Homo sapiens: one gene and its partners. The protein of the gene in region 3 purifies or fractionates together with the protein of the main gene of each other region. This does not show direct contact. Each region holds a gene or a part of one and is shown on either strand. Other genes may lie near its edges.

Region 1 (5,147 bases), 8.9 Mb from region 3:
AGCACTTGTTTTCACCACTGCTTTATAGCCTCACCAAAAATACAGCCAAAACTCAGCCCAGGTAGACAAACGCTGGCTTGAGTTTCAATATGGAGTCTCCTGGAAGGGCAAGAGGGCCAATATCCCTTTGAAAGCCAGAATCTTCTCATCGCCTATTCCTGAATAGTACTGGAAGCCTTAATGAGATGGAAGACACCAGTCTGCTCAAATTACCCATTCTAGTTTGGATCCAAAGTCCCTCAAGGACTTAGACTCTTCTCTAACCCCATAAAAAAGTGTAAAGACTTCTGAAAGTCCTAATGTTCTACAGTGTGCACAGAATATGCGTAGTATATACAGTCAGTCAATCCTGTCTACCAAATACTATAAGCAATTAAGCATGATGAGTAAGGAGGGCTTCCAAGTTTGAATCCTAGCTTTACCACTTACTACCCATGGCACCTTGGGCATGCTGTGTTCTTCAATTCCTCATCTGTAAAATGACAATAACAATAGCACCTACTCCTTAAGTGAGAACAAAATGAGACAACACATGTAAAGCACTAAGACCAGTGCCTGGCATATAACAGCCTAATATATATTATCCTAATGTTATTACTACTATCCTATTGGGCTATGCCCACCTGGCCAAGCCTGGATCCCCAGATTCTGGGCCTACAAATCCAATTAATTCATAAGGCAGCCTCAGAGAGTAATATCGATGTCTTCTGCAACCCTAAAATGCTCCAGACCTCTGACAGAGCATACTATATATACCCTATTCTGATGGCCAGTGGTCCTCTTGCCTGCAGGCCTTGCTTTCTCACCTGATTTCATCTACATCAAAAAGCTTCTTTTGGCCAAGCACAGTGACTGCACCTGTAATCCCAGCACTGTGGGAGGCTGAGGCAGAAGTATTGCTTGAGCCCAGGAGTTCGAAACCAGCCTGGGAAACATAGTGAGACCCAATCTCTACAAAAAATAAATTAAAAATTAGCCAGGCGGGGTGCTGCATGCCTGTAGTCCCAGCTACTTGGTAGGCTGAAGTAGGAAGATCACTTGAGCCCAGGAGGTTGAGGCTACAGTGAGCTGTGATGGAGCCACTGCACTCCAGTCTGGGTGACAGAGCAAGACCATAATTCAAAAACAAAACAAAACAAAACAAAACAAAAAAACTTCTCTCGTAGGAAGTCTTGAGAGTAGACATTAGGAGGTCAGGCCTCCACATATCAGCAGTTACTGGATTCCACACTTCCCTTACTTCTAACAACCAAGCTCAGTTCAAGTCAAGAAACAGAGGGTAGCTCTTCCTCTTCCCTTCCTGAAAAACTCAATCCTAAAGCCATTAGGTGCAGCAGAAGAGGGCAGATATCTACAACGGGTGGAGTAGGGTGAGCCAGAGAGGTCTGGGGGACACTGTCAGAGCCCAGGCAGGGTGAGGAAGACATCCTTGCAGAAGTGGGAAGGTGTGGTGCAGCATGTCAGAGCCGAGGGGGATGTGGAGAGCATCCATGTCGGCTGGCAGTCTGATGTGGGGTGACACACGCAGGGTAAAAGAGGCACTCATGAAGGGTAAAGGGCAGTGGCAGTAATGAGGATTAGCTACCTACAGAGGAACTGATCAAAGAAGTGCATATATTAAGCATAATGGGACCCAGGTTTCTCACTGTTAAGAGAAAGGAGTTAAAATATGGAAAGGGAGAAAATCTGTGGTGTTGGATTGGAATTGGCAGGAAGAATGTGAACTCATGGTTTCTGATTAGATGTGTATCAGATAGATAGATGGATACACACACACACACAAATATACACACATATGCATATATATTTTCTAGCTCTATTTAAGGAAGAGCCAGGGAGCAGTAACAATGGCAATGAGCACACCTAGCACTCCATTGCCTTCTTGTTTTTTTTTTGAAGACAGGGTCTTGCTCTGTTGCCCAGGCTGCAGTGCAGCGGCACAATCATAGCTCACTGCAGCCTCGAACTCCCACGCTCAAGCAATCTTCCCACTTCAGCCTCCCAAGTAGCTTGGACCACAGGCATGTGCCACCACATCCAGCTAATATATATATATATATATATATATATATATATATATATATATATATTTTTTTTTTTTTTTTTTTTTTTTTTTTTTTGTAGAGATAAGAGTCTCACTACGTTGCCCAGGCTGGTCTTAAATTCCTAGGCTCAAATGTTCTTCCCACCTTGGCATCCCAAAGTGCTGGGATTACAGGCATGGGCCACAGCACCCAGCCCCAGTTGCCTTCTAAATACCATTCCCCACTAAAAGAAACAGAGGTCCTTAGAGAAATGGCTGATTCCAGGGATGCAGCAAGAGAAATACAAGATGAGCGCATAACATCTTGTATCAGAAAGCAAGGAAACACCCAAATAATGATGGGAACATACCAAAAGGATACAGAAGCCACCCACTGGCCAAGAAACAATGATAGTAATGGATTATAATGCACTGAATAGAAAACCATGAGTCCATAAAGATATAAATCAATAAAATTAAACTTTGATGTGAGATATTTACATAGTTTCAAAGTATCACCCCACAAAATACTTATTAATTACAACTAGTAGTAATTTTATGATGGAGAAGCCTGGCAGACATCACCTTAATCAAGTGATCAAAGTGAACATTATCAATAATGGGATAAATCAAAATCACACGACGAGAAGAACAAAGCATCATTTCTGTTATATTCCTGAAGCTACACAACCTAAATCTAATCATGAGAAAATGTCACACAAACCCTAATTGAGAGACAATCTAAACAATAACCAGCCTGTAATCTTCAAAAGTATCAAGGTCATGAATGCCAAGGAACGTTTACTGAGGAAAGTCTAAAGGAGACTAGAGACTTGATAACCAAATGCAACCCACGATTCTGAACTGGATCACTTTGCTGCAAAGAACATTCCTAGGACAACTGGCAAAACTTTAATGGGGTCCAAGGTTTATATAGAGGTTTTATATCAATGTTAATTTCCTGATTTTGATGGTTGTATTTTGACTAGGTAGGAAAATGTCCTTGTTTATAGGAAATGCACACCAAGCATTCAGGGTGATGGGGCATTAGGTCGGCAACTTAACCCTCAAATGGTTCAGGGAAAAAATTCTTTCTACTGTACTTACAACTTTTATGTAAATTTGGGCTGTTTCAAACGTTTTTTTAAAATTGTTTTTTAAAATCAGCTGGGTGGGGTGGCTCACATCTGTAATCCCAGCACTCTGGGAGGCCAAGGCAGGCAGATCGCTTGAGGTCAGGAGTTCAAGACCAGCCTGGGCAACATGGCAAAACCCCATCTCTACTAAAAATACAAAAATTAGCCAGGCATGGTAGCACACCCCTGTAATCCAGTGACTCAGGGGGCTGAGGCAGGAGAATCGCTTGAACCTAGGAGGCAGGGTTTGCAGTGAACTGAGATCACATCACTACACTCCAGCCTGGGTGACAGAGACTCCATCTCAATAAATAAATAAATAAATAAATAAATAAATAAATAAATAAATAAAATTGTTTTTTAAAATCCATGTGCAATGTGGTTACAATTTTAAAATTAAAAATATCACACAGACAGTATTTGAAGAGACAGATCTCCCTGTAATGCCCACAGAAGGTAGGCTGCATGTTCTCTCTGGTAGAGAGGCTCAAAGCATCTCTCAGCCCAAACAGTATCTCTATCCAGCCGAGTTTCCATCAGAAGAGCCCCTACTCAATGCCCACTTCACTGGCACTCCTGCTACCATACAGCCTTCTCAGGAAACACACCTGCTCCCTGCAGCAGCATCCCACTTGCCCTTGCACCCTCCGGTGTCTTAGGGATTTCTCTTTTCTATTGATGTCTTTATGTTTTAGTCACAAATTTGCAGGCTATAAGTCTATAGCTTATAATATCAACTGGGACTTTGAGTATCTAAATGAGGGCCAGAACTCAAAAGAAAGTTTATGATTCTGCCTATTTCTGCAAACTATCTTTCATCAGAGACTAAGATTTATACACATTTATTCTCAGACATCCTTTTCCGTCTCCTAGCAAATTAAAGGTATTAAGTAGCCCATGGCAAGGAGGAAAATGAATGATTCTCTCCTCAATATGAAGGGCCCAGGTCCCCAGTGGGGACAGGGGAGGGGTAAATGGGACTGCCACGGGGCCAGCCCGATTTGGAGAAGCAGGCCTGCGCCAGAGCCCCTGGAGGATGGTCTCTGTGCAGAGTATTTACACAACAGACACCAATGGCTCCTCTGCAGCCATTACTGTCTATCAGGTAAATAACACATGTGCCAAAACACACATTTAATGAGGGAAATAATATGCCTTTATAAAAAGACTCAATCTGTATTTACCTGAGAGACCAAAGAAGCACCAAATCACCAGATTAGAGGAACCACAGAGGAGTCGTTCTGGTGTCTTGGGTAAATAGACATTTTATAGCCTCCATTACTGGAGGGGTGAGCAGAGGGGGTCAACCTTTAACATCCACACACACAGGCCAAGGGAGTCCTCAGGATGGGAAAACAAGAGGAGGCCACTGTGAAACAGGTGGTCTACTCCCACTTCCACCTCCCCAGCCACATGTACTTGGGATCTCTGGGATGGTGTATGTTTATACCACCCCTGGATTCAATTCATTCCATTAAAAGCCAGACTAGGAGGCAGGGATACATCCAAGTAACTCCAAGTTACCTGCAACAGGTTCTGAGTCCAGCTGACTGAAAGCACCTAGGAATACAACAATCATAGCTTCCTCAGTTCTCAGTCCTGGTGTAAGTCCCCAACCCAATCTGACCTGCAGTATCACAAGTGCTCAGGCACCTGAGTCACAGAAACAACAACAAAAAACACAGTAATACCTGTCTGGAACTCAGTCACTGGCTTTGTCTCAAGCAGCTAAAAATAGCCTGGGAAAAAATACAAATAAACTGCATCCCTTCAAAAGTCATAATCTTCAATCTAATGAATATATCCTTACTGCCAGAGCACTCTCTGTGTGAAAAACAAACTGTCAAAGGTGAAAGAAAACCTAAGAGGCAACACAGTCCAACCAGCCAGGGAAAATGAGATTAGAAAGAGAAAAGGACTGCCCAAGGTTCACACTGCAAGAAATAGTAAGAATAGAACCCAGGCTCTCAACTCCAAGGCCAGGGTCT
Region 2 (5,147 bases), on a different chromosome or scaffold from region 3:
CGCCTGTTATCCCAGCACTTTAGGAGCCAAGGCGGGTGGATCTCCTGAGGTCAGGAGTTCAAGACTAGCCAGACCCACATGGCAAAACCCCATCTCCAGCAAAAAATACAAAAATTAGCTGGGCGTGACGACGCATGCCTGTAATCCCAGCTATTCGGGAGGCTGAGAAGGAGGCTCACTTGAACCCGGGAGGTGGAGGTTGCAGTGAGCCAAGATTGCGCCACTGCACTCCAGCCTGGGAGACAGTGAGACTCCCTCTCAAAAAAAAAAAAAAAAAAAAAAAAAAAGAAATACTGTATATGAAGCAATTAAGCAGCAGACTATGTGCTAAAATTGGAAGCTATAAGTATAATGAGAAAAGCAAGGTGAAGAACAGTATACGAAGTACAATCCCTTCTCTGTAAAATTTTTGAATGGGACACAAACTTCTAAGAGATTACCTTTGGGAAGAGACCCTAGGGGTTAAGATTATTATTATTATTATTATTATTATTATTTTTTGAGACGGAGTCTTGCTCTGTCGCCCAGGCTGGAGTGCAGTGGCGTGATCTCAGCTCACTTGCAAGCTCCATCTCCTGGGTTCACCCCATTCTCCTGCCTCAGCCTCCCGAGTAGCTGGGACTACAGGTGCCCGCCACCACGCCTGGCTAATTTTTTCGATTTTTTAGTAGAGGCGGGGTTTCACCGTGTTAGCCAAGATGGTCTCGATCTCCTGACCTCATGATCTGTCCGCCTCGGCCTCCCAAAGTGCTGGGATTACAGGCGTGAGCCACCGCGCCTGGCCAAAGATTATTTTATTGACTATCTTTTGCTTTTCCACACAGTTTGAAGGTTTTTGCTATGTGGATGTAGCTTTTTAAAATTTTAGCAGGTTTTATTCTGCATGGGGAGCCAGTGAGAAATCTTCATTTCCTTCCTCATTCTTTTCAATACTTGAAAAAAGAATGAGTTAAAAGTAATCATTTTTCTAAGAGGCCACAAATGGATTAGCTGAACACTAGAGGTGTACTCGGAGAAAACTGATTCTTGGCTGGGCACAGTGGCTCATGCCTGTAATCCCAGCACTTTGGTAGACTGAGGCGGGTGGATCACCTGAGGTCAGGAGTCTGAGACCACCCTGGCCAACATGGTGAAATCCTGTCTCTACTAAAAATACAAACATTAGCTGGGCATGGCAGTGGGTGCCTGTAATCCCAACTACTCAGGAGGCTGAGGCAAGAGAATCACTTGAACTTGGCACGGAGGTTATAGCGAGCCGAGATCGTGCCACTGCACTCCAGCCTGGGCAACAGAGTGAGACTCTGTCTCAAAAAAAGAAAACTGGTTCTTAATATTAATTTTAACTAAAAAAAGACTGAAAGGTGCATCCCCCTTAATTTGTTGAACTATATGCTCTATAGGGACATTCAAGTTGACAATGACAAACTAAGAATGGCATTACCATTGCTACTTTTACCAGGTATGATGTTTCCTATTCAAATAGTGACGGAAGAAAGTTTAATTCTGGGCAACTGACTATCCTAACAATCGCTCTTTTTTTTTTGGCAACAGGGTCTCGCTCTGTCTCCCAAACTGGAGTGCAGTGGTGAGATCATAGCTCCCTACAGCCTCCCATCTCCAGGGCTTAGGCGATCCTCTTACCTCAGCCTCTAGAGTAGGTGGGACTATATGCACATGCACCACACCCGTCTGATTTTTAAAAAATATTTTTGTAGAGACTGAAGTCTCTCTAGGTTGCCCAGGCTGGTCTCAAACTCCTGGGCTCAAGGGATCCTCCTGCCCTAGTCTCCCATAGTGCTGGGATTACAGGTGTGAGCCATCTCACTAGGACTGAGATAACAATCTCTTATACAAAGTACTCCCATTCCAGAGGTAATCATTAAAAATCATCCAGAAAGAGACTGAAACCTTCCAGATCCAGCTTTGCTTCAGCATCATCATGGCCTTTGGAAAAACACAGAATTATTTCCCTTTGCTGGGGAAACAGAAGCAGAGACATGTCCATGGGTAGAACCAGAATGGAAATCAGGTCTATTTCTGCTACTACTTTAATTCTTTATTTTAAAATCTAGAACATAGTTTGTTTGGCAAGATATGTCTTTTGGATTCTGCAGACCAATACAATTACAGAAAAATAATTTTGGGGACTAACACAGGGTTGTCATCTTTTCCTTTTGCCAAGAAAGAACATTAAAATGTACTACCAGCATCTGCCATCACTAGCATTTCATAAAAAGAGGTTCTGTTAGCAACAGAGTAGAAACTGTAGGAAAGCATCTCAGAACAAAACTAAGTTGAATAAATTCACCTAATAAAAATGCCTTGGTCTAGGATTCCTTTTCTTCATCAAAAGCTGCAAGAGAAAGCCACTGCTTACCTGATGCCGATTTACTGGTCATTGGGGTGGGCAGGTTTGGTTCTCGAGGTGCTGGGCCCCCTTGGGAATTCTTATCCCACAGATTCACATTCTTGTAGTTATAACTGTTAGGGTCTCCCCATGCTGAAGTGCCATCATCAATGTCCATTTTCCGACTAATTGACTGTGGGGATGGCTCTTCCCAACCACTGGGTTCCTCATCCTTAGGTGTTGCAGGCTGTGGCCCGCTGCTCCAGCTGGAATTGGAAGGTCGAACGTTGCCTGGAGGTGGTGGGGGTGGGCCTCCCCACGAACCAGAAGCCTCTGGTTGTGGTGGCGGCGGCTGCTGTGGGGGCTGCTGCTGTTGGTGTTGTTTATTCCAGGAATTGGGCTGTCGGCCCGTCTCATTCCATGCTGGGGATCTTTTGCAATCCTCCCACCCACCTTTTGAAGCTAGGCTTGCATTGCCACCATTACCCCAAGTCCCGATTTCATTCTGCCCTCCTTCACCCCACCCAGACACAGGTTTACTTGCAGAACTTTCCCAATTGCTGTTTTTTGTCTGATCGACTTCCTCCCCCCAACCATTCTTTCCAGAAGACCATCCTTGATTGGGCTGGCGTCCACCTCCCCACCCCTGATCCTTGCTGGGATTCTCATTCCAAGAGGAAGGTGTCTTTTCATCAGGTCGTCCTCCTCCCCAGTTGGAAGAGTTGTTGTTCTTGTAGTCATTCCAGCCTCCTGTGTTCTTGGGGTCTTTCCACTCTGTAGAGGCTGAGAGCTCCCCCCATCCAGACTTCATTTGATTGCTTTGGCTGGGTGCATCTCCCCAGCCCCCTGAGTTCTTGGTCTGTGTGGCAGCGCTCTCCCACCCCTCAGTTCCTTTGTCAGATTTCCCCTCAGGCCTTGGCACCTCTTCAATGTCCCACACTGTGTCCTGCTTAATTTGAGTTTGGCCCCAGCCAGTGTTTGAGAGCACCCTGGGGTCCAAATCAGTTCGGCTCAAAAGAGTCTGCAAGACAGCCTGACAATCAGGATGTGTGGGCCTGTACGACCGACGGCCAGAGTTATGACTGTCACTACTTCCTGCTTTGTGGTTGCTTCCAGTGCTTTGACCTCCAACTTCACTTCCTGTGGAGCTGGAAGATCTTCCCCAACAGGGAGCCTGGGCATTGCCTTGGTTTTCAGGGAGGGGGTGGCCCTTTTGATTGTCCCATGCTCCAGTGCTAGAATTTGGTTGGTTTGGACCACTCCATTCTCCAATTTTCAACTCATCAGACCCAGTCGGCTGTTTCCATTCTCCCTGAGAGACCCCAGATGTCATTTTGTTCCCTTCACCCCATTTGTTGTCATTAGAGTCCTGGGGGCCAAAGTTCCAGGACCCACCCGTAGACCTGTTATTGTTGTCCCAAGAGTCATTTTTTGACCCAGTTGATTTCTGAACAGAAGCTCCTTTCCAGGAGTCCTCTCTCTCTTTTCCATTGTTCCCATTGTTTCCAGAATTGCTTTGTCCAGAGACTGTGTCAGTTCCAGAAGGCCCCCTAGCTGCACCCCAAGATCCAACACTCCCAGTCTTTCGATCTCCAGTGCTTTGTGAAGGGGCATCAGTGCTCCTGGAGGTGTTCCCCAAGCCCATTCCAAAGGGCATTCCCTTATTCTCCATGGGGTTTGGTGAACTTAAGTTCAAGGAGTTAGTGTTTCCATTTTTTGGTCCATCAGTGTTATGAATTTGAGCCTGTTCTCTGCCAGAGACAACAAAATTAACACCCGCATTTTCCATCTTTGACTGCTGTTCCCTGGATGTCTGACCTACTGTGCTAACCTGTGCACTGGAATTACTATTATCTGTTTCCAATGCCCCTTTCCTAGAAGTTCCTTCTTGGACCAGTGCTGGCCAGGCAGATGGGTTGCTATTTGGGTTAAAGTTGCTGAAGCCAGAGCCAGGTCCAATTCTATCCTGACCACTCACATTCCTCCAATTTCCTAGTCCATTGTTGTTCTCTGTAGTAGAGTTGGAAGATTGAACAGATTTAGCCTTAGGGTCAGATTTCCAGACCCCAAGATTACATTCGTTCCCAGAACTTGCAGACTGGCACTGGCTCCCTTTTCCTTTGTTACTAGTGGTGCTTCCTGGCAGAGTGCTCTTCTCAGAGCCAGGGTTCGAGGCACTGTTGTTATCGGTGGTGTTTTCGGAAGAAGATTCAGTGTCTTTGCTGGCAATACAAGGCCACTCTTCCATGTCAGACCCGTCTACAATCACCTTGTCCCAGATGTGAATTGGGTTGGGGGAGGTGCCGTTGTTGGAGGAGGCTCCCGAGCCCCAAGTGGAATTTGCATAATTTGAAGCAGCAGCACCTCCAAGGGTTGAGTCTGGGGAACAGATCATCTTATTAATCACAGCTTCAAATGCATTCATTACCCATTAATCCCTCAAAGGGGCTCTCCTTTGAGCTCTGCCCTTAGGAGAGCTGATCACATGCCAGTTTCTCTCAACCCAGTTGCTTGTATCACAACTGTCTTAGTCATCTCTTTTTTTTCATTTGCCTTGTGTTACACCGGTTAAGTCTAACTTCATCTCTCTCAAAGCTACGTCCTTTGCCATTCCTATTGACAGAGAAGGGCCTTCTTGTATCTTGGGACAAGGCAATAGCAATGGCACTCTAAACTTGCTCTGTATCTTCAACCTACTCTAAACACCCCTGGCTGGAGCAATCTTTCTAAAGCACACTTTTGATTATATCACTGCTGTATGGAGAACCTTCAACAGTTCCTTAGTGCACAAGAATAAAGC
Region 3 (5,683 bases):
AACTTAGTTCTTCTTTGACTCAGTCATTTATCCACTGTACACTGAGTGCTTGGTATATTGCCTCTTGCAGTGCCTTCTTATGAGGGCTGGGCTGTGAGAGCTCAGGGGACCTCTGACACAACCTAGCTGTTCAGTTTGCATCACTGAGAGCACTTGCCTTGTCTTCATTTTAGGGGACTAGCAAGCTTTCTCTGAAACCATGGGTGGGGTAGTCGTTTGGTGCATCCCATCCTTTATATCATCAGTGTTAACAAGTTAGCCCAAAGGTGAGGGAGGGTGTGCTTTGGATCTGTTTGTTTAAAGAAAGCCAGTTATATGTATTCACCTATTCCTTATTTGGTATTTATTTAAAGTATCTTGAGTTGTGCCAAATTCTTGGCTTTGTCCTGAAGTTAAAGAGAAATTAAATGAGGACTCGCCTTCACGTACATAATAATCTAGTGGAAAATACAAAAAACAAGAATCGAACTAGGGCCCTAACAGAGAAGTGCCTTACCAGTGCCAGAGATGTGGTCAGTGTGCAGGAAATTACTTTACAGTGAATGACAGGATGAGACTGAATGTAGGGCATGGCACTTGTGGTCCCTAAGCCCATAGGTCAGGTAGGCATGAATTTCCTGGCCACCTGCCCCCCAAGAGGTGCCCCCTCCACATACATAACCATTTCAAAGGCTATAAGACAGCCCTCTGCCCTTACTGCATGGCAGATGGTCAGCAAAAGGCTATGGTTAAGTGTACTGGGTCTGTTTGGATGATCTAGAGACTTTGGAGCTTAACATTCTTGTTCATATTTTTGGTGTTGATAATTTTATTTACTATTTATTGAGCACTGTGCTGGGCACTTTATATGCATTTCAAAATCTGACAGTAAAATTGTAGAGGTTTCCTCGGCTCTATTTGACAGTTTAGGAATCTTGGGCCCAGAGGGGAAGATAGGCAGAGCTTACCTTACATCCAGGCAGGTTGACCCCAGCATCCACGCTCTTCTGCAGCCTCCATGTCTGCTGTCTACAGAAAGCTTCATAGGGAGCAGGTGCCCAAGGCAGGCTTCCTCTAAGAAGGGGATGAGTTCTTCCTGGGTCTCATACTAGGCCTCCAGGGGCAGTAAGTGCCCATTTGGCAGGAAGGAGAGGGGCCATGGGGTCATCCTGAGAGCTCATTTGGGCCTGCCTCCTCAACACACTTCCTTTCTAGGCTGAAGACAATGAGAACTTCAAGACAATAGTGGAGTTTGAGTGCCGGGGCCTTGAACCAGTTGATTTCCAGCCGCAGGTGTGTGTGTATCTTTCTGGGGAATCTTTGTCTTTGGGGAGGGGATGTATGAAGTGACAGCCAGAACTGTGCTACCTACAGATACCATGGACTAGACATTCTCCTTTCTAGCGGTAGTAATAATTGTCCCTTAAGTGGCTGCTGTATGCTTGGGCACCCATGCCATCATTTTTACATGTTACCACATTTAATTCTTATGGTAACCCTATGAATTTATTCATCCTGTTCTTCAGATGAGGAAGGAACTGAAGAGATTTTGCAACTTGCTCAGGGTCACACAGTAAGCAGTGGAGCTATAGTTTCAACCCAGATCTATCTGACTTGAGCTGGTGCTCATCCCCCTTTATTTGTGCATGTTTCACCTCACAACAAATCTGTGAGGTAGGCAGAAGAGCAAATACTTCATCCCCGTTTTATCAATAACTAAGGTCCAACCTGGGAAATGACATGCCCAGGAGCCTTCAGCAAACCAGGGCTAGTGGAAGGGATTACGCTGCCCCTGCTGCCTTCTGGTCCAAGGCTGTAATTCAGAGAAACCACCACTCTAGTTCTGAGGCAGCTGCCGGGTCCTGGAAGCTCAGCAGTTATTCCAAGACAGGTACTCATACTGCATCTCTGTCCTCCATCCCAGAAGTGTGAGAAGAGCCAGCAGCCTGGCCGGCCCTTACTTATAGCCCAATGCCTTCTTTTGCCAAGACTAACTGGTACCTTCTTGTGCCCTGCAGGCTGGGTTTGCTGCTGAAGGTGTGGAGTCAGGGACAGCCTTCAGTGACATTAATCTGCAGGAGAAGGTATGAGACTTGGGGGCTTTGGGAGGTACTGTAGGGCACCTGGTGGGAATTATTTTTTTGGTGGACAAGGCTCATCAATGGAAAGCCAACTCTGTATTTTTGTGCTTTTTGTTAGTGATTTTGCTGTTGAAATGGCCACAGGTATAGTGCTAAAGTGCTTTCTAATGTTCCTACGTATGAGAAAGCTATGATGCCCCTTACAGAGAGAATACGTGTTAGATAAGCTTTATTCAGGCATGAGCTATAGTGCTGCTGGCTGTGAGTTCATGAATCAACAATATATATTAAATAAGTTATCTTTAAACAGAAACACATAAAGCTAGATTATTGATTGGTTGATGAAAATGTGACCAGAGGCTCATAGGAACCTAACCCTGTATTTCCCCGGGGAGTATTCATTCAGTATTCCCTAATTCAGTGTTTGTGGTGGCTTTACTGCACCTAACTACCATGAAGAACAAGAAATAGTCTGTATTACTGGACATATTACTACCCTGCAGATAGAAAAGCCTTGTGCTCAAGCCTTGAAGGAAGGACAAAAACTTCATTTCATTTGCTCAGCACCTAATAACAGCAGCTAGCATCTACTGAGCTCTTACATGTGCCAGGCACTCACTATGCTGAGTGCTTTTATTTTATTTTATGTATTTTTTGAGACAATCTCACTCTGTCGCCCAGGCTGGAGTGCAGTGGTGCAATGTCAGCTCACTGCAACCTCTGCCTCCTGGGCTCAAGTGATCCTCCTACCTCAGCCTCCCAAGTAGCTGGGATTACAGGCGCCTGCCACCATTCCTGGCTATTTTTTGTATTTTTAGTAGAGACCGGGTTTCACCTTGTTGGCCAGGATGGTCTCGGACCCCTGACCTGAAATGATCCACCTGCCTTGGCCTCCCAAAGTGCTGGGATTACAGGCATGAGCCACCACGCCCGGCTGCTGAGTGCTTTTAAATGTGTTACCTCATTTGATTCTTTCAACATTCAATATGAACTCCATTGTCCTTTTTTTGTTTTTGTTTTTTTTAAATAGAAGACAGGACTCGGAGAAGGGACTCAGAGAAGTTAAGTGATTTGCCCACAGTCATACAACTGAAAGAGCTAGAATTCAGGCCTGAGCTATCTGGCTCTGTTCAGGGTCATACATGTTCATGATTATTTGAGTCAGAGCCTGAGCTGGGCCTTTTAAGTCCCAGTTTTCTGCTCTCCACATGGCTGCATTCTGCGTTGTGAGGCTAACAATGCCATTTTGTTTCCCAGGACTGGACTGACTATGATGAAAAGGCCCAGGAGTCTGTGGGAATCTATGAGGTCACCCACCAGTTTGTGAAGTGCTGATCCCTCTTCCTTCCCAGTTGCCCTTAAGAACTGAGAAAGGACAAAGTACTCTAAGCAGCAGAGCCCACAGAGGCTCGTTCCTTTGACCCTTGTCTCCTGGTGGCTATACGAAACCTTCACAATCTGCATGCTGGACTTTATTACAGCTTCCCAAGCCCCATCAATAAAGCCCCTGTTCACGCTGCACTGGTGCATGAAGGTGAAGTAAGGAGGCAGCTACTCCCTCCACAAATAAGAATTCGTGCAGCAGCAGTTCACTCCTTAGGAAAATGAAGAGTATTTTTAAGGAGATGGTATCTCCCCAGTCAAGGGCAAGTTTACAGAGATGAAACCGCGATCCCACCATCACTCAATGAGCCAGAAGCCAATGGTGACGTACTGTTACCTGAACTTACTGAACTTGCTGTTGGAAAGATCTTTGTGAGGATTAGGAATTAGGTTAAAAGAAATTAAGAACCATCTTCAAGCAAAAATTAAACTTTATTTCTGCTTAAACAATAAATACACCTGAGTTAGTTTTCCAAACCTTTCCTCCTGATTAAATGCCCTTAAAACTTAAATCTCTTGTTATCTTCAGTTGTGATCTAGTCCCAAGTGGAAATTACGTTTAGCTTTAAAACCATGAATTTAAAGCTCAAGCCTGTAGCTGGCTGCCTAGGCAGCTTATGATTAGTTTCACAGAATAGCACCCACTGGCTACACAGGCCCCAGTTTTTTTTTCTTTTTTGTTTTTTTGAGACAGTCTCGCTCTGTCGCCCAGGCCGGAGTGCAGTGGTGTGATCTCAGCTCACTGCAACCTCCACCTCCTGGGTTCAAGCAATTCTGCTTCAACCTCCCAAGTAGCTGGGATTATAGGCACATGCCACCACACCCAGCTAATTTTTGTATTTTTAGTAGAGACAAGGTTTCACCATGTTGGCCAGGTTGGTCTCAAACTCCTGACCTCAAGTGATCCACCCGCCTCAGCCTCTCAAAATGCTGGGATTACAGGCATGAGCCACCATGCCCGGCCTCCCAGTTTTCATGATGAGGAAGTGATGGTAGCTTTTCATCTGCCCAGAAGTTAACTTTTGATGGATTTGCCTTCTAAGGCATCAAACATGTCTTCTAAGGCCTTCTCCACACATTGGAGAAACTCCCGGGCATTGCGGCCTGGGTAGGAAGAGACATTGCAGCCTATCCAGTTGTCATGAACAGCATACCCAACACCAAAGCCATCAGAGACCACAGGGGCAAAGCCCCCAAGGTTCACTGCTGGGCTGCTCAGTGTGCTCGTGGACAGGACATTGTGGTTTATCTGCCCGTATGCAGGGTCCAGGTAGAGCTCAGGCAAGATGATCCCTTTGGCTGCTGCCAGATGCCGCAGAGCAAACAAGTGTCGGTCAAAGCCCTGGCCTGTGAGAAACAAAATGGAAAACCAGAGTCTCAGGATGGAAAAGGACCTCAGGAAAACCTCCCAACTCACCACATGGTAGGAATACCCCTCACAGCATCCTTGAGAGTGGGGGAAGGCTCTACCTCTATGCACACCACCAACTGACTAACCTTCAGAGCAGCTCAAGCTAGATTATTTTAAATTATTTAGGAAATATATTATGTCATGTTACATTTAAAAATAGCTGTCAACAGCTGAGCTAAAAATGAGCCTAAAAGGAAAGCATAATTTTAAAGATGTGAAATCAGTTTAGTCAAAGAGTCAAGACAGTACAGGAAGACAGCTATGGACTCAAAAACTACAATAAAACTAAAAGTCTGATTCAAGTGTAAAAGAGAAGATTGAGTCAGTGGAACAAAATGGAAAGTCTGTTTGACCAGGGTTCGAATCTCAGTCTTACTACTAACTTGCTGTGTAACGGGGCCAGTGGCTTGGTTTTCTCCCTATAAAATGGAGGAAGAGAAGATTAGAATGTCTTGGAGGTCCCTTTCACTTCCAGCACTTCATAGCAACATGAAAGGACAACTATGACCCTCCAGGTCCTTTCCAGGTCTTGAATTTTATCAAAAAAAGGTAATGACGGATGACAATTGAGAAGAGCTTCTGAGATAACCTGTTTACAGAGAGCAGACACATTACAACTGAGGTGAAGCTAGTGGGGCCGTAAGTTTAGAAATCCTAAATTTTCAAAAGTGAGTCTGATAACCAATCAGTAATAGAAAAAGGTTGGGTGCAGTGGTGCATGCCTATAATCCTAGTGCTTTGGGAGGCCAAGGCAGGAGGATTGCTTGAGCCCAGGAGTTTGAGACCACCTTGGGCAATACAGTGGGACCTCATCTCTACAAAAAATTTT

The links. Proteins that work in one complex are often made in the same cells at the same time.
Region 1: the proteins of CZIB (region 3) and ERI3 purify together in Homo sapiens (affinity purification with mass spectrometry; one large-scale study listed by BioGRID and IntAct). This does not show direct contact.
Region 2: the proteins of CZIB (region 3) and TNRC6B purify together in Homo sapiens (affinity purification with mass spectrometry; one large-scale study listed by BioGRID and IntAct). This does not show direct contact.

What each region holds. Positions count from the first base shown.
Region 1 is NC_000001.11:44,340,769-44,345,915, forward strand, and holds part of ERI3 (ERI1 exoribonuclease 3), read right to left. Parts: intron 1-5,147.
Region 2 is NC_000022.11:40,264,267-40,269,413, reverse strand, and holds part of TNRC6B (trinucleotide repeat-containing gene 6B protein), read right to left. Parts: intron 4,727-5,147; coding exon 2,378-4,726; intron 1-2,377.
Region 3 is NC_000001.11:53,212,371-53,218,053, reverse strand, and holds the end of CZIB (CXXC motif containing zinc binding protein), read left to right. Parts: intron 1-1,194; coding exon 1,195-1,272; intron 1,273-1,997; coding exon 1,998-2,063; intron 2,064-3,317; coding exon 3,318-3,395; 3' UTR 3,396-3,955; downstream 3,956-5,683. Other genes in the region: CPT2 (carnitine O-palmitoyltransferase 2, mitochondrial isoform 1 precursor), read right to left, coding at 4,459-4,790.